7 linked regions of the Homo sapiens genome follow. The protein of the gene in region 4 purifies or fractionates together with the protein of the main gene of each other region. This does not show direct contact. Each region holds a gene or a part of one and is shown on either strand. Other genes may lie near its edges. The genes, in order: TMBIM4, GPHN, ELAVL2, OTUD4, RPTN, HRNR and PRMT8.

Region 1 (4,207 bases), on a different chromosome or scaffold from region 4:
GCCGAGATAGAGCCACCGCACTCCAGCCTGGGTGACAGACTGAGACTCTATCTCAAAACAAACCAACAAAAACAAATTAAAATGATATGCTTGTAAAATGTTTGTAAAATCATAAAAGATAAAGTGTTTTTTTGTTTTGTTTTGTTTTTCTTGTCATTGTGGAAGTGACGTTAGTTCTTTTGGCAAAGGCTTCTGAGAACATCAAGTTTAAGGATTTAGTTTAGAATAGACTGTTCCACAACTGTTCTGAATTCCACTTGCTAAGTGTTCGGGTGTTGTGGTTAAGGTGAGGACTGGGCAATGTGGGTAGATCAGAGTAAACTCATCAAAACAATTCCAAGGGACCCTAGGATGACACTACTCTGGGTATGTCTACACCTCTTTATATTGGAATGACAACAATATCATGAATATTCACTCTAATCCATTGTATTTGCCACCATCATCTCTCTCTTACAGTAATACAACTTTATCCCCTTTTCTCTGCCTTTGGTAATGGCCCTCTTCAATGTATTCTACTTCTGGCCTAGGATGATCTGGCCTTTGTTTATCTATCCAGCCTCATTCTTTGCCACCTGTCCCCTACACCAGCTGAGCTTCACCGTCTCCCTCTTTGCAGACGTTGGTCCCTTGAGGCCCAGCCTACATCACTGCTCTTTCTCTGGTTGGCTCCTACTTGCCTTTCAGGATTAAATATTACTTCATTCAGAAAGCCTGGTTTATAGAAAGTGCTCAATAAATGTAGGTATTATTATTATTTTAAAATAATAGAAGTAAAAATGCATCCTCGGTGTGATTATTGAAAAAGTGGATGAATGAGATGGGTATTTGTTGAGTGGATGGGTGACTGGGACATGGGTTCTATCACTTTAGCAACTCTCCAAGGTGAAAGGACTTAAAGTGTGTTCAGGCTGGGCGCGGTGGCTCACGCCTGTAATCTCAGCACTTTGGGAGGCCGAGGCGGGCGGATCACGAGGTCAGCAGATCGAGACCATCCTGGCTAACATGGTGAAACCTCGTCTCTGCTAAAAATATAAAAAAATTAGCCTGGCGTGGTGGCAGGCGCCTGTAATCTCAGCTATTCGGGAGGCTGAGGCAGGAGAACCGCTTGAACCCGGGAGGCGGAGGTTGCGGTGAGCCGAGATCGTGCCATTGCACTCCAGCCTGGGCAACAAGAGTGAAACTCCATCTCAAAAAAAAAAAAAAAAGTGTGTTGAGAAAAGTTTCACTTCAGATGACGCCGGGAATGTAAACCGTTTTCTCTTCCATTCTAACTCGGAGCCATCCCCGCTTTCTCCGCCCAGCTGGAATTTTTGAAGCGAGAAAATCGACTCGCTCGGTGTTCGCCCGCCGACGCCGCACGGCTTGCTGGGGCTGGGCTCTTCCTCGCGGAAGTGGGGAGGAGGCGGTTGCGGTTAGTGGACCGGGACCGGTAGGGGTGCTGTTGCCATCATGGCTGACCCCGACCCCCGGTACCCTCGCTCCTCGATCGAGGACGACTTCAACTATGGCAGCAGCGTGGCCTCCGCCACCGTGCACATCCGAATGGGTACGTTGTCCCCTCTCCAGTGCCTCCCAGCCGCTTGTCTGCACTGCTCGGCCTCTAGAAGCCGACTTCCGGCTTCCGAGGGAGAGCGGCCATCTCCTGGGACTCACAGGGAGTGCTCACTGAGCTCCCGGCCCTCCTTCTCCGGGTACCAGAGGACTGGCGCCCTCCTCAGGGAGTCGGGGAGGCGCTTCCTCCCCTCCTAGCGGGTGTGGGAGGGCGCCAGGCCCAGAAGGCTTGCGGCTGTCCTGTGTGCGCCCCGGCTCCCCAGCGGGCGCCGCGGTGTAGGAAGGGACAGATGGAAACCGCCGCAGCCTGAATTTGGCATCTTGAAGTGAAAAGAAACGTCGTGGAAATGAGTCGGTTGATCACTGTGACTGACGTACACACGAGTGGAATCCACGGCCTGATGTTTTTGTTCTGTGGGGTTTCGCGTTACAGGCTTATATTTACCGTCCTGTGCTAGGCTGGAAGCTCCCTGACGGCACTATTTCCTCTCCGCAGGGCCCAGAATGCAACAGGTCTTTGAGGATTATTGAGGAAGTTGCTCAACACAGAAGCTTCCTAAGTCAGTCTAAATTGTGTTTTAAGTTATTACGTAGTAGCCAATGGGCAGAAATTTTTGAATTTAAAATGCTCAGCTTCATCTACGTGGAAGCCATTGCCTGCTCTAGTTTGGTCATTTGATCGCCGAAACAGCCCCAGACTTTCAGCCTGTTTAGGCAGCTGGAACTTGTTCTGGAAAAGGAAAGATGAAGATAGTTCTGATGTGCTAAGAATCTTAGTGCCTAGAACTTGTTCTGGAAAAGGAAAGATGAAGATAGTTCTGATGCACCAAGAATCTTGGTGCCTAGCATTTATATTTTTGGAATTGAATTTTGAAATTATTTTGGCCAGTGAACTCAGCTTTTTTTTAAAAAAAATTAATTGTGGTAAAATACAGGTAACATAAAATTTACCGTCTTAACTATTTTTAAGTGTATAGTTCAGTAGTGTTAAGTTATTCACATGGTTGTGCACTGTTAAAAGAAAAACTTTAGACACATTAAATCTAACGGAGTTTGAGCACAGAATGATTTGCGAATTGGGCAGGTCCCGGAACCAGAATAAGGTTCAGAGTGATGAGTCCTGCCGCTTGGTGGGAGAAAATTTATGGAGAGAGAAAGTAAAGTGAGGTACAGAAAATAGAAGTGAGGTACAGAAAGAGTTGATTGGTTACAGCTTGGTTTTTGCCCGTTTGAACATGGTTTGAACACGTGGCCATCTTTGGCTGAAACTCAGTGATTGGTTCAAGCGTAGGTTACAGCCTGTTTACTAGGTTATAGTTCACTATATACCGAGAACCCCTAGGCTGAACTTAAAATATCTAAAGGCATAGCTTTAGACTAAACTTATATACCATCCAATATCCAGAACTTTTTAATCTTGCAAAACTGAAACTCTATACCTATTAACTCCCCATTCCTTCCTTCCCCCAGTCCCTGGAACCACCATTTCACTTTCTCTCTCTGTGAATTTGGCTACTCTAGATACAATCAGTATTTGTTTTTTTGTGGTTGGCTTTTTTCAATTAGCATAATGTCTTCAAATACATCCATGTTGTGGCATATGTCAGAATTTCCTTTTTTTTTTTTTTTGAGACAGGGTCTCGCTTTGCCACCGAGGCTGGAGTGCAGTGGTGAGATCACTGCTCACTGCAGCCTCTACCTTCTGGGCTCAGGTGATCCTCCCGCCTCAGCCTCTCGAGTAGTTGGGATTACAAATGCAGGTCACCAGGCCTGGCTAATTTTTTTGTACTTTTGGTAGAGACGGGTTTCTCCATGTTGCCCCATCCGATCTTGAACTCCTGGACTCAAGCGATCCTCCCACCTCAGCCTCCCAAAGTCCTGGGATTACAGGCATGAGCCACTGCACCTGGCTGCAGAATTTCCTTTTTAAGACAGTAGTAGTACTTTGTATGTATATACCAAATTTTGTTTATTCATCCATTGATGGACATTTGTGTTGCTTCTACCTCTTGACTACTTTGAATAGTGCTGTCATGAATATAGGTGTGCACATACCTCTTCAAGACCGTGCTTTAATTCTTTTGAATATATACCCAGAAGTGGAATTGCTGGATTGTGTGGTAGTTCTATTTTTAATTATTTAAGGAACGGCCATACTGTTTTTGATAGGGGCTACATCATTTTACATTCTCAGCAACAGTGCACAAGGGTTCACCTTTTTCTACATCCTTGCCAACACATTCCGTTCTTTTCTTTCTTTTTAAAATGAAAATAGCCATCAAATGAGTGTGAGGTGGTATGTCCTTTTGGTTTTGATTTGCATTTCTCTAATGATTTAATGATGTTGCACATTTTAAAAGTATGCGTGTGGGGCATTTATACATTTTCCTTGGAGAAATGTTATTCAAGTCCTTTGCCCAATTAATTTTTTAAAAGCAATTTTAGGTTCATAGCAAAATTTAGCAGAAAGAACAGAGTTCTTATATACCCTTTCTGCTTTTCCCCAAGCCTCTTGCACTAATAACGTTCTGTACCAGAGTGGTATGTTTGTTACAATCAGTGAACCTAGACTGGACACCTCATTATCACCCAAGACCAAGGTTTACGTTAAGGTTCGCTCTTAGTGTTGTATATTCTATGAGTTTGACAAATG
Region 2 (3,500 bases), on a different chromosome or scaffold from region 4:
CCAAAGGATAGCTTTGCTGCATATAGTATTCATAGTTAGAAATTTTTTTATTTCAGCACTTTGAAGATGTTATCTCCTTTCTTCCTGTCCTGTAAGGTTTCTGCAGAGAAATCTACTGTTAGTCTAATGTGGATTTCATTATATATGACTTGATTTGGAGACCTTTGGAATTCCTGGACCTGGATATCCATACCTTTCCCCAGACTTGGGAAGTTTTCAGCTATTATTTTATTAAATAAGTTTCTTATGCCTTTTCCTTTCTTTTTTTCTGAAACTCCAATAATATGAATATTTGTTCTTGTATGGTGTCCCATAAGTCTTACAAGCTTTCTTCACTCTTTTTCATTCTTCTGTTTCTCTCTGTCTCTCTCTCTTGCTGGGTATTTCAAACAACCTATCTTCCAGTTCAAAGATTCTTTCTTCTGCTTTATCAAGACTGCTATTGAAGCTCTCTATTGTAATTTTTTATTTCATTTTTTGAATTATTCAGCTGTAGGATTTCTGTTTGGTTCTTTTTTATGATTTCTCTATCTTTGTTGAATTTATCATTCTTATGAATTGTTTTGCTGATTTTGTTGAATTATCGCTAGGTTTTGTTTTTGTTTTTGTTTTTGTTTTATCTAATTGAGTTTCCTTAAGATCATTATTTTGCAATTTCTTTTCCAGGAGTTCATTGATTTCCTTTTCATTGGAGTCTGTTACTAGAGATGTATTCCTTTAGTGGTGTCATATTTCCTTGCTTTTTTGTGTTTCTTGTGTCCCCATGTTGATCTGTGTGCCTAGTGGAACTTTTGCTTCTTTCAGACTTTCTGGGTGGTTTTGTAGAGACGCCTGTAGTTGGGCTTTAGTGTGTTGGTTGCAAAGGGTATGGTGACTTTCTGGACAGGTGCAATGGTGTAGTCTCCTTGCAGCTTTTTCAGTTGCATTCAATGTCAGTAATAACTGTGAGTACCTCAGTGGCCTAATCCATAGAAGTTTGTGTCAGTGGTAGTAGTGGCATAGGCTGTTAATATCCTTGGTGTCAAGGGCTTTTAGAGTCCTCCTCTTCTTGTTTTCCACACAATAGGGAGAATCAGCTGAAGGGATCCCTCTTGGTGTTAGGTCTGACATGCCCTCCAAGCAGCTACAGTGGCACTGGGCTCAAAATATGGTGCTTGGAGTGACTGTGGAGCCAGGATCCAAGGCTCAGGGTCTTGTGAATCCATTGTGGCACCTGGTTCTTGGGGTTCAGGTTCACTCTCTGTGGCAGAGTTGGGTGTAGGTTATCCAAAGAACCAAGGTTTATGACTGAGGCACCCCCTAGCAGCTTGGACCCAGGTGCCCTGGTTGTACCTGTGATTTTATACCTCATGGGTAGGGTGTAGTACTGACCAAACTCCAAAGAAAAAGGTTTTGGCCAGGGGAGCAGGGTATGGCCGCAGCTCAGGAACCAGAGCCAGTAGGGCTCAGCAGCAGCTCGGGTCACAGTGGATAAGGTACTGTGTAGTAGTGACCCTAGACCCCTGGATGGTGGGGCTACGCAGGTCCTCACTTCAGACTCTGAGGCCAGGTGCAGAAGCAGCAGATACCTTAGAATGGCAGAGCGCAGCTGTGGTTTGATCCCCGGGGGGGCCAAGGATCAACACAGAAATGACTCAACTCCCCAGAGAGGGGGGTATCTCAGCAGCTCAGACTCTAAGGGGCTATAGTCTAGCTCCAGAGAAGCAGGGTACTAGAGTTATTTGGCCTGTAGGTCAGGATATCTTGGCTCAATCAGCACTCTGTTTCCCTAGGACATGAGTGACTACATCAGCTCAGCCTGGGATGCGTAGGTGCTCAGCTTGGCAAAGTGTGTGCAACATACTTTCTAAGCCTTGCCATAACAGAGCAATATGTCTGGAAAAAGGATGATTAAAGAAGATTAGAAACTATCTCCAATGTCTGGATGGAGTTAAGGGAAACCAATAAAGGAATCTGCAGCACCCAGGAGCTAGCAACAGTGAGATTTCCTTACCACATCTTAGTCTGAAGGAGCAAAGAAAGACAATGGTACCTGAACCTGGGAAGATTCATATCTGTGGGAGAGGACTGCCCAACAGCAGCTCTTGCTCTCAGTAGGAGAGATGCCCTAACCATCACCAAACTGCAGCCCAGGAGGAAAAGAGCAAGGGGAATGAAAACTCTACTTTTCTGTCTCTCTCCTACCCTCTACATCTCTTACTGACCCCTCCCTTTGGCTGAGTCTCACCAGACGCCAAAGTGGTGGGAAACTGGTTAAAATAGTCCATAGAGGTCAGCTTCTGGACCACAGCACAGAGTAGAGAATGATGATGTGATCTGGAGAGGCAAACAGAAAATGAAACAAATCTTTGTCTTTGTAAGGCTTATATTCTGTAATATATAATGCACTTAACATTGTACCTAGCATAGATTGTGGGTTCAATAAATATTAGTTATTGGTAGTATTGCTTACAGTAATAATATTATGGAGAGAAGATTTTTAAGACTTTTGTAATAAATTTCCTGTTTTACTTTGATTGTACTTTCAGTAGTAAGGTATTTTTTTTTCTTAACCATTCCCTAAGGGGTGTGTGTGTGTGTGTGTGTGTGTGTGTGTGTGTGTGTGTGGTTTATTTTACTTTGTCTTATTTTGGTGGTTAAAATAACAACAATGACAAAACATACACACACATAACATTAAATATACCATCTTGACAGTTTTTAAGCTTATAGTTCAGTAGTGGTAAATATATTCACATTGTAGGGACTTAAGATTTTAAATAGAGTCATGAGTTACTTAATGAAGATATATTCTGAGAAATATGTTGTTGGGCAATTTTCTTGTTGTCCGACCATCATAGAGTGTACTTACACAAACCTGCATGAGTAGCCCACTACACACCTAGCCTACATGGTGTGACCTGTAGCTCCGAGGCTACAAACCTGCACAGCATATTACAGTATTACTGAATACGTAAGCAATTATAATGGTATTTGTTTATCAAAACAAAAAGTACAGTAGAAAATATGGTAATCTTATAGGACCACCATCATATATGCAGTCCAACATTGAGCAAACTATCCTTATGCAGCACGTGACTATACTTATGAGGCAGACATCTTTAGAAAGGAATCTTTTGGCAGGGGGGATTAATATTGTCTCAGGATTTTTTCTTAGGGAGAATTTGAAGCATTCATTTTCCAAACTCCAGTCTAAATCATTGCCCCTGACAAGTGACTTTCAGATCACTTCTCTATCAGATCAAATCTATCAGATGAATCTTACAGAAAAATGCTTTTCCTCATGTTGTAAGAAGTTAGCAGGGAAGGTTCTGTCTCTTATACCATCAATATGAGAGCACAAACAATGAAAATCTTGTTTTTCATTTTCAAAAGTAATGTTTAACCTAGGTCATTACAGACACTGGAATCATTTTTAAATGATTTAATTATATTTGCTCAACCTCTATTATTAATTGATAGGTGAGCTAATGTGTTTTAGAATATTTTCAAAGGCAATA
Region 3 (3,500 bases), on a different chromosome or scaffold from region 4:
AGACTGAACAAGAATCAGTGCTGTCATGATAAAAAAACATGAGGCAAAATCCAGAATAGCTTTTGAAATATCCAACAACCTGTAACCCCTCTGTGACTTCATTTCCTTGTCAAAGAAGTGGGAATTTATTCTACAAGCTGCAAGCTGTTTCTCTACGTAAGCTAAGTTTTCTCAGGGAATACTTAAAGGGATGAAGGAAAATAAACCTTTGGAAATCTGTATTTAAAAATCTTAAATAATTCAAGATATGGGTTTTATTATAATTAGCAAATCTATTTGAATTTGAAAAGGGAAGTTTCAGATTTCCTAATTAAACATAACTGTTCTGGTTTGTAGAATATTAGCTGTGGGTCACTCTTTTCACAGCAAAAATTCTTCTGGGGTTAACCCTTGCCCAGCAGTTATGGAAACAATGAGCTACAAGATTAAAGTGGCCAAAGACACTTAAATCACTACTGAAAAGTTTGGATGGGTGTAGAAACTACAAGAGACCCGAATGGGAGATTCGGACTAAAGCTCATTGGGATAGCATTTGAAATACAAAGTGTTCATTGACTGAAATCAGCAAGATTTAGAAAGGACAACAAACACTCCTCACTTAATTGCACATTTATTTCCATGTTCAGGTGGCAAGAATGAGCTCCTAAGCCAACATTCAAGTGAACAGCTGCAGTAGGCTGTGTGCGCTGAAAATTACAGCATCTCTCTGCTATAGGACCATCTGCTCAGAATAAAATGATACTAATGTGCTATATTTTACAAATAATGCATATTCCATTGATAGGCTCAACACAACTGTTCACAGAATGCAAACTCTTTCAACAGTTACTGGGCAAATAATTTTCAGCCAGATTTACAATTTCAACTTTTTTTTTGGAGCATAAAGAATTGTAAATAACTTCAAAATTTAGTAACCAAAAAAATACATAGTAAACAGAATGTATAGAATTACGGTAACTTAGTATTCAGACCATACCAAAACTTTTTTTGTTTTTTTAAAAAAGCTTGTCACTCTTTTGAGTCTGCGCTAAATCCTAATTTAGATTGTAAAAAAATTACATACGAGAGCATGGTTCTGATGCTACATACACCACTACAGTTAAAATTGCAATGTGCTTTAAGTCCTAATGATGGCCATACCACAATAGGTTAAATGTAAGAATAATTAGTATGCCAAATGAAAGATTCAAGTGTTTGGTATGGCCTCAGCACTCCTCCAACATGCTAAAAAAAAGTAGCCTACAGAATTTAAGAAAAATCCCACAGACCCCGGTCCAAGGCTCTGCTGCCCACGAACCACTTCTAAGCAGAGAAGCCACATCACACAGTCTGACTGCCATGTTAGTTTGGAGTTGCCGTCTGCAATATGGACACAAAAAGTACCGTATGTTAGATGAGCAAGATAATGCAACAAATCAGTTTGTACAAAATTTACAGTGATTGTATTGATATTCCCAGCACGTCCATGCAGTGTGGCTTAATTGAAATTGAGGCAATTCCAATCTAATCTTTCCAAATTCATTTCAACATGTAGTTTTCTTGCACAAATATAAGCATTTTTAATTAAGAGCCTGATTTTAAAACAGTATTAACTAGTTATCTTGGCATCTATTCTGAAGAACTAATGTAAACCACACCTCAAAAATTTAAAAAATAAAGTAAAATAAAGCAAAATACTGCAGGCTGTCTTATCTCTTAAGGATGTGGGAGAAGGGAGGAAATGTGAATGAAATTTTATAGTGGGAAAAAGTCATCATGCAATTCCTAAGTGATTGGTTTGCATAAAAGCACTCTTTCCCCAAAATATCAGAAAGACATTAAGAGAAGCTATATTTGCCCACACTGTTACATTATACTATAAATGATCCTTAATCCTGGGACTTAAAATTAAAAGTGAATCGAAACCCTGTGAGGTTATTTTGCCACTACAGTCAAACGGTTTCTAACAGTTTCAATGAGAATTGCTCACATATACTAAGAGGCAGTAAACCAGCATCTTTCAATTGAAATAATTGGACCGATAAATAGGATTGTTTGGAGTAATGCTCGCATAGGATGTCAGCTTTGTCCCTGAACGAAATCAAGTGAACATTTTTTAATATGTAAATTGTAAACCCAGCACGATTTGAAATTAGTGCTGCTATGAGGCCTCCAATATAGTTAATGGGCCATTTACCACTTATTGAAACTTGCCCAAATACCAAACAGAGCCATGATATTGGCACAAAAGCCAAAGTTTACTTTTTTTGCCATATATGCAGATGCTTCAAATGGTCAATATAATCAGAAAACTTAGTTTCTAAAAATAGACAGTGAATAACAGAAGAGGTCCAAAAATGTCTTTTACTTATTGATAATTATAAAAATTTTATCCTGAGAGGCAATCCTGGCTGTGATTTACTCTTGATATTAGCAATGCCGCCAGTAACGATGGATTCCACTTTCTGGCATCTATCAAAAAGGATTAACATACTTTTTTACAGGAAGCCATGAAAATATTTTACTCTTCTTCCGTTCTCCCACTGTAACAAGAGATTTTGGTCTGACCCTATGTTATTTTTCAAAAAACTACTTATAGTTTAACTGAACCTGTGAAAAAGTGCTTTACACCCATGAAAGATTTTTCATAAGAACCCAACTGTAGTTAAGACTACATGAGCAGGACCACACCCAGCAGGGTAAAGCAGGCATAAATGTATGTCCTGAATACCTTCAGGAGTTCAATCTAAACATTGCTCACTACATAAAACAGATTTTAATTTAACTGCCTCAGTCCCTTCTATTTCATAGGAGGTGGACACTAATGAGCTAATCTATTGACACCCCTCTTTCTGAAAGCCCCAGGGAGGTGAACAATCACTTTATTGCACCAACTAGATAGGAAGGCTGTGTATGGAAAATGATTCTACTGCACTTTTACATTTCAAGCACCCCAGACAGTCTTCTCCGCTTGAGGCAGACACATACCTTTATGGGAAGTTATAAATAAGTTGCTCACATGGCCCTTACCTTTATGCTGGCCAACAATTCAGTTACTAAAAATGTAAAGCTACTTCCCCTTCACTTAAGGACAGGCAATTCTGCTCTACTCAATCTACCACAGACAACTGGGCTGTGTACTATTTATAGATTCCACTGGCTCTGAAACTCTTCGGAAAGAAAAAAAAGGCCATATTCCAGTGAAACAGAGCCATTAATTTTAAGGCTTAAAAAAATAATGTTTCAATATATATTCTCCTCTTAATTTAGACATCACTTGTGCCAATTCAGACTGCTTTTCCTCCTGTTATTATCCAAGTAATAATTTACGAAAAGGCACTTTAGCATAGATGAATCTAGAATATTCTAAACTTTCACTGGGCTCCAAGGTAAAATGGCTGTTACTATGGTGAAAGCGTAGGTTTTATTGGGAAATAGAAGATTGTCTCTACTTTTATACACACAGGTACTTCCAAAAAGCCATAAAGACTTCTAAACTTTTTATTTAAATAATCCTTTAT
Region 4 (3,500 bases):
GGTTGCAGTGAGCCGAGTTGCGCCGCTGCACCACAGCCTGGGTGACAGAGTGAGACTCTGTCTCAAAAAAAAAAAAAAAAAAATTCAGACTTGCAGTGTAAAAAATACGCTGAGTGTAAGTAATGCTGAACCCTTAATTTTATCAGAAGGCATTCATAGGTTTTTAATTTTCAGGGTTCAGTGTGAACTCACATGTCAGAACATTATAATTATGTAAGTAGTGATTAATAGTTAATAAAATGTTGTATAACAGCTTAATATAATTTTCTCAGTAGTATGTGAAATAAGATGCCACAGTGACCTGTTTTCATTTTACATTCAAAGTCTTACAGGATTTATTACTTACTGGTTTTAAGACCTAGAATTATGTAATCTGACAACTTTGGGTGTTATTTCCCCCAGTTGACTGGTAGAGAATGTTGATATAATACTTTGCAAATGATAGGCTTGAAACCTTGTTTTATTAAAAAAACCTGGTAACGCAGAGGCTAGATAAGAGAGTGCAGAGGTGTGGTAGAGAAGGGAAGTGGGGAGGTGGAATGGTCTTTAAATTAATTCTTATTAATCATTGGCCCCAGAGGGTAAAACTGTGTTGATAATAATGGACATTGCTAACATTGGTTGAGGTGCTTACTATATGCCAGGCATTAAGTGTTTTGCATATATTTTTTTTAGTCCATATAATTTTTTTTTTTTGAGACAGAGTCTCGCTCTGTCGCCCAGGCTGGAGTGCAGTGGCGCCATCTTGGCTCACTGCAAGCTCCGCCTCCCGGGTTCATGCCATTCTCCTGCCTCAGCCTCCAGTGTAGCTGGGTCTACAGGTGCCTGGCACCATCACGCCAGGCTAATTTTTTGTATTTTTAGTAGAGATGGGGTTTCACCATGTTAGCTAGGATGGTCTCGATCTCCTGACCTCATGCTCTGCCTGCCCCGGCCTCCCAAAGTGCTGGGATTACAGGCGTGAGCCACCGTGCCTGGCCTTAGTCCATATAATTTTATGAGGTATGATCAGAGGTTGAAAGTTCCATGGGGAAAAGTTTCACTTTCCTTTTATGAACCTTCAAGCAGTTTCAGTTGTCCAGAATTGGAAAGAGATGTTGTAGAAAGTATTATGCCTTGTTACTGACATTGTTCAGCCATGGCATAGGTGGACGCTTTCTGCTCAGAAAGGAGACTCTCAGAGAGGATGCAGGCTTGTGTCAGAATTCTGCAGTCTCTAGTAACTTTAAATGGTTCTGTGTTTTTTTTTTCCTTAGACCTATAATCATCTAATACAGAACAGTAGCCCTTTATTGGTGGGCTCTTTAATATATATGGCTCTTTTATTATAAATATCTTTCGAAATTTAAGATATTTTTGGCAATTTGACATTATATAATCTATGAAAGAATCTCAATCTTAAAATCCAAGGGTGCTTAAAAGATTTTATAGACAAGGGAGTATACTTTAATGTCTTTAAGTATATCTCTGCTAAATCAACTGGGACTGTAATTTAAACGCAATTGAATTTGGTGGTTCAACAAATGACTTTTAGAGATTTCTCAAATGAGTGCGATTGCTATTAAAGAAACATAAAAAAGGTTGTGTTATTACACAGCTTGAATAAACTGTTTTTATGTCAAAGTAACAATGAAGCGATGAAGCAAGCTGTATTAGAAAAATTTTGTTGATGCTTCAAAATATTTTTCGCCTTACTAGTTCTCATCGCTCTTTCTAGTATCACTTGAGAGACAATGAGTACTCTTATCTGTATTATTAAGCTATACTATTTCTTAGCTTGTAAGTCAGTCTTTGTTTTATTCCCTTCTACACACTGGTCACTACCAAGTTAAAGCACTGCTTTCATCATATAATTTCTCAGTTCAGAATGTCACCTGAAGTGGCCTTGAATGGCCTTTCTCATCTAGCCTTCAAGTCCTGCCTGGGCTCAAGGCCCTCTGTAAACAGGCCCCCCTTTGGGTTCTTCTCCCACTCAGTTCCACAACAGGTTGTCCTGCTCCAGCTGGCCAGATTGCTTGTCTTCCCAACACAGTGTTCCTCTTCCTCCTCACGCCACATTGGCCCTCTCTGTAGAGTATCAGCTGCCTGTTGCCATCCAGATCCTGTCCAGCATTCATCTTGAGTCACTCTTCTTTCAGGAAACCTTTCCTGACAGAATTTCCTTCTTTAAATTCTTTTGTATGTTTATAGTCTTTAATGATTGCTATATGTTTTCATAATTAGATTATGTACATATTTTTAAATAATACTGAGGTATTTTAGGTTTATGTACAAACTCAGTAATTCACAGTGAATGTTTACACAGCGAAGCGGTTAACTGTTTTGGCATATATGTTAGATGACATTTCTAATAGATTTATTTTTTGCAGTTTATAGAAGGATCATTTGAAGAATATTTAAAGCGTTTGGAAAATCCACAGGTATGTCACAGTCTTCTAGTATATTTCTATTTTTATATATCCAAATAATGTATTTAAAATTCATTAAAATAGAAGATTACTATTACAGTGTATAGAGGAGTTGCAGTGACGGTGTATCCTATTTCCTTATAAACGTTTCCTACACATTTTATGCAGCACTTAAGTTGGAGCTATATGTTAGAGGTTGCCTCACTAAGGCAGAGTTGTGATATTTTATCTTGGCTATAATGGCATGTAAATGTAGTATAAAAATCTGAAATAATACTGGGGTGATGATTTTCAGAATGCTACGTTGGTGTGTGTATGGAACTTGGACAGGGTGAAGTTTGATTTCTTTTTTTTTTTTTTTGAGGTGGAATTTAACTCCATTGCCAGGCTGGAGTGCATGGCATGATCTCGGCTCACTGCAGCCTCCGCCTCCCGAGTTCAAGCGATTTGTCTCCCGAGTATCTGGGACTACAGGCGTGCACCACCATGTCCAGCTAATTTTTTTATTTTTAGTAGAGATGGGGTTTCACCATATTGGCCAGGATGGTCTCGATCTCTCGACCTCGTGATCCGCCTGCCTCAGCCTCCCAAAGTGCTGGGATTACAGGTGTGAGCCACCACACCTGGCCTGCAGAGTTTTTCTTCCTAGGCAACTGAGAAGGCAGAGTTCTTTCATGCAGGTTCCTATTTCCATGATCATCTCGTGAAGAGGGAAGAGACTGTTGAGACAGAAAAGGATAGCACTTACTCACCAACTCCTGCTGCTATACTTTTTCAGTCATGTTTATGTTAAAAGGATTTTTCTTAATTTTTCTGTTTACAAAACTAACGTTCTCACTGTAAAAATCCAAGTATCTTGGAATGCCATTTAGAATGTTAAGGTAAAAATAACATTGGCAAAGAAAAAAGCTAAGAAGAGTTAAGGAGTAAAGGGAATGTAATGTAGGAACCAAGGGTGTTTGATCGATGACTGATGTATCCATTTGGTTGCCTAACACTAATTTGAGTGCTTGTTATGGGCCAAGAATTCCTAGTCACCCTGGGGATGCAGAGATAATGTAGATAACAAAAAAGTTTCCCTATCATAGGAAA
Region 5 (3,134 bases), on a different chromosome or scaffold from region 4:
AAAGGCCAAGTCCTTGGTGTGGCTGGAGCATTGGATGCTCCTGGGAGGGGCCTGTCATGTGAGTAGGCTGGGTAGGTCATCTGATCAGATAGTGAGGCCTATGTGCCACACTGAGGGATGTAAATTTTTTTCTCAAGTCACTGGGGAGCCACTGAGGAGAAGGGCCATTAAGGCAGTGGAGATGGAGACGTGAGAAGAGATTCAAAAGTTATGGGGATGTAGAGTTGGGAAGACTCAATGACAATTTGAATGTGGTGGTGAGGGAGTGGTAAAGGTAAAATATGACTCAGTAGAGGGAGGAGGAGCTGAAAATTATATTTAGATAAGTTTCATTTAGACTCTTTATTATTTGTTTTGTATTGATTCTTATTTTTTTTCAGTGCCCAGGAACTCAGGGAACAAAGACATTTTAGAAGTCAAGAAATAAGGTGTTATTTTTGGAAAATGGCTCAAAAGTGAAAATAGTACAACCCCACAGTGAAGAAAGGAGTCATGACAGTTATTGCTCATCAATTATTTATTAGATATTTTAATACAATTCATAATCTGCACATAGATTTTCTTGAGAAGAGTTTTCAGGTCTTAGGAGCTATGAATCAATAGTCTTGATCCCCTGGAATTTGCAAACATATGACATATACTTTCTCTTTATTTTATATAATCAGAAACTAGAAAGGTATTGAATTGGAATGGGTCCATTCAGCTCTAGTGATAGGCACTAATGGACAGTCCCTCTGGTGTGGAATAAGAGCCTGGCATGGGAGATGTAGTAAACATCAGAGATGCACTCTATGTTCTCGGCTCTTGTAGCAGCCTTGAACTGAGTTTCATTCTAGTCTAGACTATGAGGCTTGAAATTCCTGATGTTTTATCCACAGGAGCCAAAGCTCACCAAATCTAGGGTTCCTTGAGGAGTGGAGATGTAGTATAATCCTTGGATGTAATGTAAATCTTCAGAATATCTTTTCTGTTTCTGAACTTTAGGGAGAAGTGTTCTACCTTTCAATGATTCAACCAGGTCTCATCTACACAGAGGGCAAAGCAGGAAATGATTTAAATACCCAAACTGATCAACATTAAGATATGATTATTTCACCCAATTTACCACCTAGATTTCACTGAATCAGAAAACCCTAGAATTGCTGCTCAAAGAACCAAAAGCCCTTACGTGAATGCTAGTACTCAAAAACATCCTTGCAGGGAGATACAGCAGAGGATAGAGGGAAGAAATACATTCTCAATCTCTTAAATCGAATTAAAGGTGAACTCGACATATAGGTTTCTTTTTTGGCTTTGTGTTGCTTTACCTCTGGTGCTCACATAGCCTAGTATGGGTAGGATTTCTGCTCTTGCACATAGTCATAGGGGGGGTTGGGAACAGTAGCTCCCTTGGCAGGGTGACCACGCTGTTCTCTGGTTTGGGGCCTCCCACTGCTCTGGGTTGGATAGAAGGATGGTTCAGTGTGTCTTTTCTGTGAGCCTTGGCTCTGGTCATCCTCTTTCATGTGGAATTTTTCTCTGTTAGGACAGCTTCTGTGGGTCACTTGGGATTTTTGATTCTGAGATCCTTGATACCTCTCTTTCTCCTCATAGTTTTGTCTATTATGTTGTTGCTGATGGTTTTGATCCTCTTCATGAGTTTGCCTGTCTCATCTCTGATGGTTCTGCTCGTCTTCATGGGTTTGCCTGTCTCGTCTCTGACGGTTCTGCTTGTCTTCATGGGTTTGCCTGTCTCGTCTCTGATGGCTCTGCTCATGTTCATGGGTTTGTCTGTCTCGTCTCTGATGGTTCTGCTCATCTTTATGGGTTCGCCTGTCCTGTGTCCCACATGGACCTTCCTGACTCTCATGGCTGTGTCTATCCCAAGTTTGATGGCCCTGCTCTTCCTCTGCCCAGTGGCTCAGCCCCTCACCATGACTCTGCCTGGTCTGGGCCTGTCTGTGGCCCTGCTCACTACTGCATGATTGCCAGTCTCTCCCTTTGTGACAAAGTGGTCTTTCTTGTTGGATTTGTGCTAAGAGTTTGTGTTGGTGATGTTGGCTATCCTCTTCAGGCTCCCATACCTGGTGGCCGTTCTGCTGTGAGTCCCTAGACTGGAATCCCTGTCCCTGGTTTTGGTACCCTTCCTGTCCTGGAGTCTGTTGACTTAGCCTCCCTGATCTTCCTGATTGTTCAACATAAGAGGCTTTTCTTGTTCCTTCAGTCCCTTGGAAGTACTTATTTTGCCCTTGTATTTCCCCAGTCTGTGATTGAATATAGTGGGAACTCTGGCCTTGTCTGTCTGTCTGACCATAATGATAGCTCTGGCCTTGTCTGTCTGTCTGACCGTAGTGGGAACTCTGGCCTTGTCTGTCTGTCTGACCATAGTGGGAACTCTGGCCTTGTCTGTCCATCTGACTGTAGTGGGAACTCTGGCCTTGTCTGTCTGGCTGACCATAGTGGAAACTCTGGCCTTGTCTGTCTGTCTGACCATAGTGGGAACTTTGGCCTTGTCCGTCTGGCTGACCATAATGATAACTCTGGTCTTGTCTGTCTATCTTACCATAGTGGGAACTCTGGCCTTGTTTGTCTGGCTGACTGTAGTGGGAACTCTGGCCTTGTCTGTCTGTCTGACCATAGTGGGAACTCTGGCCTTGTCTGTCTGTCTGACCATAGTGGGAATTCTGGCCTTGTCTGTCTGGCTGACCATAGTGGGAACTCTGGCCTTGTCTGTCTGTCTGACCGTAGTGAGAACCCTGGCCTTGTCGGTCCATCTGACTGTAGTGGGAACTCTGGCCTTGTCTCTCTGTCTGACCATAGTGAGAACTTTGGTCTTGTCTGTCTGTCTGACCATAGTGAGAACTCTGATCTTGTGTGTCTGGCTGACCATAGTGGGAACTCTGACCTTGTCTGTTTGGTTGACTGTAGTGGGAACCCTGGCCTTGTCTGTTTGTCTGATCATAATGATAACACTGGCCTTTTCTGTCCATTTGACCATAGTGGGAACTCTGACCTTGTCTGTCTGGCTGACTGTAGTGGGAACTCTGGCCTTGTCTGTCCGTCTGACTGTAGTGGGAACTCTGGCCTTGTCTGTCTGTCTGACCATAATGATAACTCTGGTCTTGTCTGTCCGTCTGACCGTAGTGGGAACTCTG
Region 6 (3,500 bases), on a different chromosome or scaffold from region 4:
GGAAGTCTTAAACCTGGGACTGAATCCATATCCAGAAGACTGAGTTTTCAAAGAGACTTTTCTGGCCAACATAACTCCTACTCAGGTCAGTCTTCCAGCTATGGTGAGCAAAACTCCGACTCCCATCAGTCTTCAGGCCGCGGCCAATGTGGGTCTGGGTCAGGGCAGTCTCCCAACTATGGCCAACACGGCTCTGGCTCCGGACAGTCTTCCAGCAATGACACACATGGGTCTGGCTCAGGCCAGTCTTCTGGCTTTAGTCAACACAAGTCTAGCTCAGGGCAGTCCTCTGGTTACAGTCAGCATGGATCTGGCTCAGGTCACTCCTCTGGCTACGGACAACACGGCTCTAGGTCAGGACAGTCATCTAGGGGTGAACGACACAGATCTAGCTCAGGTTCGTCTTCCAGCTATGGTCAGCATGGGTCTGGTTCCCGTCAGTCTTTGGGCCACGGCCGACAAGGGTCTGGATCTCGCCAGTCTCCTAGCCACGTCCGACATGGGTCCGGTTCGGGGCACTCCTCCAGCCACGGCCAACACGGGTCTGGCTCAAGTTACTCTTACAGCCGTGGCCATTATGAGTCTGGCTCAGGCCAGACTTCTGGCTTTGGGCAACATGAGTCTGGCTCAGGACAGTCCTCTGGCTATAGTAAGCATGGTTCTGGCTCAGGTCACTCCTCTAGCCAGGGACAACATGGATCTACGTCAGGGCAGGCATCAAGCTCTGGCCAACATGGCTCCAGCTCACGTCAGTCTTCCAGCTATGGTCAGCATGAGTCTGCCTCCCGTCACTCTTCAGGCCGCGGCCAACACAGCTCTGGATCTGGCCAGTCTCCAGGCCACGGCCAGCGTGGGTCTGGGTCAGGGCAGTCTCCCAGCTCCGGCCAACATGGGACTGGCTTTGGTCGATCTTCCAGCAGTGGCCCATATGTGTCTGGTTCAGGCTACTCTTCTGGCTTTGGTCACCACGAGTCTAGCTCAGAGCATTCCTCTGGTTACACTCAGCATGGATCTGGCTCAGGTCACTCCTCCGGCCACGGACAACACGGCTCTAGGTCAGGACAGTCATCTAGGGGTGAACGACAAGGATCTAGTGCAGGTTCATCTTCCAGCTATGGTCAGCATGGGTCTGGCTCCCGTCAATCTTTGGGACACAGCCGACATGGGTCTGGATCTGGCCAGTCTCCTAGCCCTAGCCGTGGCCGACATGAGTCTGGTTCCAGGCAGTCTTCCAGCTATGGCCCACATGGGTATGGCTCAGGGAGGTCTTCAAGCCGTGGCCCATATGAGTCTGGCTCCGGTCACTCTTCTGGCTTAGGTCACCAAGAGTCTCGCTCAGGACAGTCCTCTGGCTACGGTCAACACGGATCTAGCTCGGGTCATTCCTCTACCCATGGGCAACATGGTTCTACATCAGGACAGTCATCGAGCTGTGGCCAACATGGAGCTACCTCAGGTCAGTCTTCCAGCCACGGTCAGCATGGCTCTGGCTCAAGTCAGTCTTCTCGCTATGGCCAACAGGGCTCTGGATCTGGCCAGTCTCCTAGTCGCGGCCGACATGGGTCCGATTTTGGGCACTCTTCCAGCTACGGCCAACATGGGTCTGGCTCCGGTTGGTCTTCAAGCAATGGCCCACATGGGTCTGTCTCAGGCCAGTCTTCCGGCTTTGGTCACAAGTCTGGCTCAGGGCAGTCCTCTGGTTACAGTCAGCATGGATCTGGCTCAAGTCACTCCTCCGGCTACAGAAAACACGGCTCTAGGTCAGGACAGTCATCTAGGAGTGAACAACACGGATCTAGCTCAGGTTTGTCTTCCAGCTATGGTCAGCATGGGTCGGGCTCCCATCAATCTTCGGGCCACGGCCGACAAGGGTCTGGATCTGGCCACTCTCCTAGCCGTGTCCGACATGGGTCCAGTTCAGGGCACTCCTCCAGCCACGGCCAACACGGGTCTGGCACAAGTTGTTCTTCCAGCTGTGGCCATTATGAGTCTGGCTCAGGCCAGGCTTCTGGTTTTGGGCAACACGAGTCTGGCTCAGGACAGGGCTATAGTCAGCATGGTTCTGCCTCAGGTCACTTCTCTAGCCAGGGACGACATGGATCTACGTCAGGGCAGTCATCAAGCTCCGGCCAACATGACTCTAGCTCAGGTCAATCTTCCAGCTATGGTCAGCATGAGTCTGCCTCCCATCACGCTTCGGGCCGCGGCCGACATGGCTCTGGATCTGGCCAGTCTCCAGGCCACGGCCAGCGTGGGTCTGGGTCAGGGCAGTCTCCCAGCTATGGCCGACATGGGTCTGGCTCCGGTCGGTCTTCCAGCAGTGGCCGACATGGGTCTGGCTCAGGCCAGTCTTCTGGCTTTGGTCACAAGTCTAGCTCAGGGCAGTCCTCTGGTTACACTCAGCATGGATCTGGCTCAGGTCACTCCTCCAGCTACGAACAACACGGCTCTAGGTCAGGACAGTCATCTAGGAGCGAACAACATGGATCTAGCTCAGGTTCGTCTTCCAGCTATGGTCAGCATGGGTCTGGCTCCCGTCAGTCTTTGGGCCACGGCCAACATGGGTCTGGATCTGGCCAGTCTCCTAGCCCTAGCCGTGGCCGACATGGGTCTGGTTCCGGGCAGTCTTCCAGCTATGGCCCATATAGGTCTGGCTCAGGGTGGTCTTCAAGCCGTGGCCCATATGAGTCTGGCTCCGGTCACTCTTCTGGCTTAGGTCACCGAGAGTCTCGCTCAGGACAGTCCTCTGGCTACGGTCAACATGGATCTAGCTCAGGTCATTCCTCTACCCATGGGCAACACGGTTCTACATCAGGACAGTCATCGAGCTGTGGCCAACATGGAGCTAGCTCAGGTCAGTCTTCCAGCCACGGTCAGCATGGCTCTGGCTCAAGTCAGTCTTCTGGCTATGGCCGACAGGGCTCTGGATCTGGCCAGTCTCCAGGCCACGGCCAGCGTGGGTCTGGGTCAAGGCAGTCTCCCAGCTACGGCCGACATGGGTCTGGCTCCGGTCGGTCTTCCAGCAGTGGCCAACATGGGTCTGGCTTAGGCGAGTCTTCTGGCTTTGGTCACCACGAGTCTAGCTCAGGGCAGTCCTCTAGTTACAGTCAGCATGGGTCTGGCTCAGGTCACTCCTCTGGCTACGGACAACACGGCTCTAGATCAGGACAGTCATCTAGGGGTGAACGACACGGATCTAGCTCAGGTTCGTCTTCCCACTATGGTCAGCATGGGTCTGGCTCCCGTCAGTCTTCGGGCCACGGCCGACAAGGGTCTGGATCTGGCCATTCCCCTAGCCGCGGCCGACATGGGTCCGGTTTGGGGCACTCCTCCAGCCACGGCCAACATGGGTCTGGCTCAGGTCGTTCTTCCAGCCGTGGCCCATATGAGTCTCGCTCGGGTCACTCTTCTGTCTTTGGTCAACATGAGTCTGGCTCAGGACATTCCTCTGCTTACAGTCAGCATGGTAGTGGCTCAGGGCACTTCTGTAGCCAAGGACA
Region 7 (3,500 bases), on a different chromosome or scaffold from region 4:
AGTCTTCCTGGGAATTGGGAGCATGTCATCAGGGGGTGAGGAGGTGAGTAGTTGTATGTCTAGTAGGGGGAGTGGGAAGGTGAGTTCTACCAGAAATCGAGGACATGATTCTTTACTTCCAGAAGCCATGAAGAAAATGATGCTTTTTTTTTTTTTTTTTTTTTTTTTTTCTCAGAGACAAGGTCTCACTCTGTCTCCCAGGCTGGAGTGCAGTGGCACAATCATAGCTCACTGCAGCCTTGACCTCCTGGGCTCAAGCGATCCTCCTGCCTTAGCCACCCAAGTAGCTGGGACTACAGGCACATGCCACCATGCCTGGATACTTTTTAATTTTTTTTTTTTTTTGGTAGAGATGGGGTCTTGCCTCATTGCCCAGGCTGGTCTCAATGATTCTCTTTTACCTATGGAAAGAGAGGGCAAGAGACAGATTTATCTCTTCATAGAAAGGCTTTTCCCAGAACCAGTGCCTCCTGATTACTAAGATTGGGACTTTTGGTCTCCGTCAGCCAGGCAGTGCTGGTGCTTTCCTGCCCTGATCTGGGTCATTATCAGCTGCTGCCCTCCTCACAGGAGCAGTACATGTCTTCCCAGTGGGCAGGAGCAGCCAGGAGGGGGAAGGTGGATTTTACTTTGATCTTGAAGGATTGGGAAGACTGTGCCTAGCAATGGTGAGAGTAGGGGTAGTGAGGGAGCTGGGGAGGAGCCTTCTTGGGGACAGTGGCTGTGATTGGAAGCTAAGGATGAAGTCATAGGAGCTGGCTCTGCCTATTCCATCACCAGGATGATGTCTAACCCAGAGCCTGCCCTGCTGATGAGAAAGTCCATGGGCAAGGATGCTCTGGGAAAAGTTCTAAGTTTCCAAACCCCAGGCTCTATCCCTGCAGCTCTCAGCCATAGTTTTATTTTCCTTGAGATGATCTATTAATATTTCTAGTCTCCAAAGTCAAGCAGACAGCCTGCTGGACCCTGTCTAGAGATGGCTCCCTGGCTCTGGGGTGTTAGGGATGACATTCTTCATGGTCCCATGTGGAGGAGCCTGGATTAAGCTCACATCCAGAATCAAGACATCGGCTCTGGGCTGCCTGAAAGATGGCGAGGATTTGCCCTGAGTGTTGAAGGCTCTAACCCAGTGGCTTTCCTTCCTAGTCTTTGGTCACACCCCCACCACAGTCCTACGTGGCTCAAAGACCAAGGATCTAAACCCAGTTGTGAGCCTACTCCTCTTTTTGCAATTATAGTGTTATGCCTCCTCCCTTTTGCACAGAATTCTACAAACTTAGGTTCTGAAAGACATTTGGAGGTCCTACAGTCTCCAGTTTGTCATGCCTTGGGGAAGTGGTTCTCAAAGTGTGGTTCCTGGACGGGTAACACCAGTATCACCTGGGAAATTGTTAGAATTGCAAATTCTTGAGCCTCACCCTGGACCTCCTGAATCAGAAACTCTGGGGGTGGGGGCCAGCCGTCTGTGTCTTAACAAGACCTCCAGGTGATTGCGATGCATGCTCCAGCTTAAGGACCACTGCCTCTGTGCAAGACTGCCCTGAACCAGAGGGTTGAGAATTTGACCAATGTTGACTTTCTTCTGGAAAGGCTATTCCATCTCCTCACTCAGGTATACCCTCAGGCCTCACCAAGACTCTTTGCTTTCTGGCTGACGTAGATCCCTCTTCTTGGCACATGCCTATATGGGTAGCAATGGGGGTGGGAGAATACTTTGTTGAGTTGCTTTCTCAGCCACCTTCGCGTGTCAGCGTGGGGGCTCTGTTTCTAGCAGGTAGCAAACTTCTTTCCCAGTTCATGTGGGTTAGCAGTGGGGTATACTCAGACCATCTATATTCTGACAACTGACCGAGTAACCCTTTCTGTTTTTATGGATCTCAGATGCACAGACTTAGATTAATCCTAATTCTTGGCTCATGCCATATGTCATTATTGGACCATTCATGGTTCACTTTTTTTGCTAATTTATATATTAATTATATATAATTATATTATATATTAATATAATGAATATCCATGAACTCACCACATAACTCAGCAACTAGAATATAAATTAATTACTATTAACTAGAATGTAAATAGTAACTAGAATGAATTAATAAATACTAACAAAATAAATTAATAAATACTAATAAATTTATTAGTATTACTATTAGAAGGTAAATACATTAGTTAATATTAAAAATAAATTGTTTTTAACTAAAATATAAATATTGACTAGAAAGACATGGTAATAACTGTAATATAATTATAATTAAATGTAAATCAATTAATGCATATTTGCATTAATTTGCTTACACTTATTGATTCGAGCTATGCCCTGACTCAATGACTGAAATGCTGCCAACACCTCTGCATCTTCCTGGATGCCCCACCCCATCCCACCTCCCGTATCGCCTCCAGATGAACATTATCCTGAATTTTGTGTTCCTTATTCCCTTGCTATTTATGAAAAGTTTTATCACATGGATGTGTGTGCCTAAACAAGGTATTGTTTGGTCTCAGCTGTTTTTGAACTTGATGCAAAGTGTAGCCTGCTGTGTGTGGTCCCTCTGCATCAACCCCCAACTGAGTCTTCTGTTCTCAGCCCAGTGGTAGCGCGCTCTGCGGGCCACTTAGAAACACATCCCATACCGCACAGCCTGAAAAATGATCCCTTCTAATGACTCTGACGTCTCTGCAGCTCCAGGCAGAAGCTGTCACAAATAGGCACAGACAGCCAGGGTTCCAGGCTGTGGCAGCCAGTGGGCACGGTGCCCCCCCCACCACAACACATCCTCAGTGGGGTGGGGGTAGAAGTGGGAACTGGGGCCCCTGGGGCTGCTGTGTAATCCAGGAAAGCCAGGTAGCAGGTGGAAGGGCAGGAGCCCCAGCAGAAGCAGGCCTGGGTGCAAGCCCTGGTTTTTTCAGGTATCAGCAAGGTAGGCAGATCAGACATTGGAAAGGACTTTGGGCAAGTTTACTTTCTGCGCCTTGGGCTCAGGCAGCTCCTTTCTGCCATTGACATCCTGTGACATTGAGTCATTTTCCCACATTAAAGAAGCTTCTTGGTGCATAGTCCTCAATTCTCCAAAAGGCCTATGAATTCTCTAGAGAATATAATTCCAAACTTACAGCTAGAAAAATTATATCCCAGAAAGGACGACCAGCCACTTAGCCATTGGTCAGTGAGATGGGAAGCAGGATTCCATTCCCTTTCCAAAAGCACCAGGAAAACTCTGGTGAGAGGCCAGTCCCTGCCATTTGTACCCTCAGCTCCCTGTGTTCCCAAGCCCCATCCTTGGTCATAGTGCCCACCCTACTTCTCACTATTTGCCTGAATGTCTTCTCACTGAGGCTGTATGATCGGGGGAGGAGGGGACAAAGTGGTGTTCATCCCGTTTGCTGTTCCCCAATTCTACAGCCATACCCGGCCTGTGGCAGGCATCCTAAGTGGAAGTCTGTGGAATGGTGAATGAATGCACTGCACTAGGAATGCTGCAGGCAGTACTGGTCATGCT

What was found.
Region 1: the proteins of OTUD4 (region 4) and TMBIM4 purify together in Homo sapiens (co-immunoprecipitation; one large-scale study listed by IntAct). This does not show direct contact.
Region 2: the proteins of OTUD4 (region 4) and GPHN purify together in Homo sapiens (affinity purification with mass spectrometry; one large-scale study listed by BioGRID and IntAct). This does not show direct contact.
Region 3: the proteins of OTUD4 (region 4) and ELAVL2 purify together in Homo sapiens (affinity purification with western blotting; one study listed by BioGRID). This does not show direct contact.
Region 5: the proteins of OTUD4 (region 4) and RPTN purify together in Homo sapiens (affinity purification with mass spectrometry, with the first as the bait; one large-scale study listed by BioGRID). This does not show direct contact.
Region 6: the proteins of OTUD4 (region 4) and HRNR purify together in Homo sapiens (co-immunoprecipitation; one large-scale study listed by IntAct). This does not show direct contact.
Region 7: the proteins of OTUD4 (region 4) and PRMT8 purify together in Homo sapiens (co-immunoprecipitation; one large-scale study listed by IntAct). This does not show direct contact.

Annotation. Positions count from the first base shown.
Region 1 is NC_000012.12:66,167,197-66,171,403, reverse strand, and holds the start of TMBIM4 (protein lifeguard 4), read left to right. Parts: upstream 1-1,407; 5' UTR 1,408-1,452; coding exon 1,453-1,549; intron 1,550-4,207.
Region 2 is NC_000014.9:67,106,147-67,109,646, forward strand, and holds part of GPHN (gephyrin), read left to right. Parts: intron 1-2,227; exon of another isoform or gene 2,228-2,316; intron 2,317-3,500. UniProt on the Homo sapiens protein: Microtubule-associated protein involved in membrane protein-cytoskeleton interactions. It is thought to anchor the inhibitory glycine receptor (GLYR) to subsynaptic microtubules.
Region 3 is NC_000009.12:23,763,741-23,767,240, forward strand, and holds part of ELAVL2 (ELAV-like protein 2), read right to left. Parts: intron 1,360-3,500; coding exon of another isoform or gene 1,269-1,359; intron 1-1,268.
Region 4 is NC_000004.12:145,170,590-145,174,089, reverse strand, and holds part of OTUD4 (OTU domain-containing protein 4), read left to right. Parts: intron 1-2,369; coding exon 2,370-2,420; intron 2,421-3,500.
Region 5 is NC_000001.11:152,153,095-152,156,228, forward strand, and holds the end of RPTN (repetin), read right to left. Parts: coding exon 1,650-3,134; 3' UTR 501-1,649; downstream 1-500. UniProt on the Homo sapiens protein: Involved in the cornified cell envelope formation. Multifunctional epidermal matrix protein. Reversibly binds calcium.
Region 6 is NC_000001.11:152,217,694-152,221,193, reverse strand, and holds part of HRNR (hornerin), read left to right. Parts: coding exon 1-3,500. UniProt on the Homo sapiens protein: Component of the epidermal cornified cell envelopes.
Region 7 is NC_000012.12:3,585,203-3,588,702, forward strand, and holds part of PRMT8 (protein arginine N-methyltransferase 8), read left to right. Parts: intron 1-3,500. UniProt on the Homo sapiens protein: S-adenosyl-L-methionine-dependent and membrane-associated arginine methyltransferase that can both catalyze the formation of omega-N monomethylarginine (MMA) and asymmetrical dimethylarginine (aDMA) in proteins such as NIFK, myelin basic protein, histone H4, H2A and H2A/H2B dimer.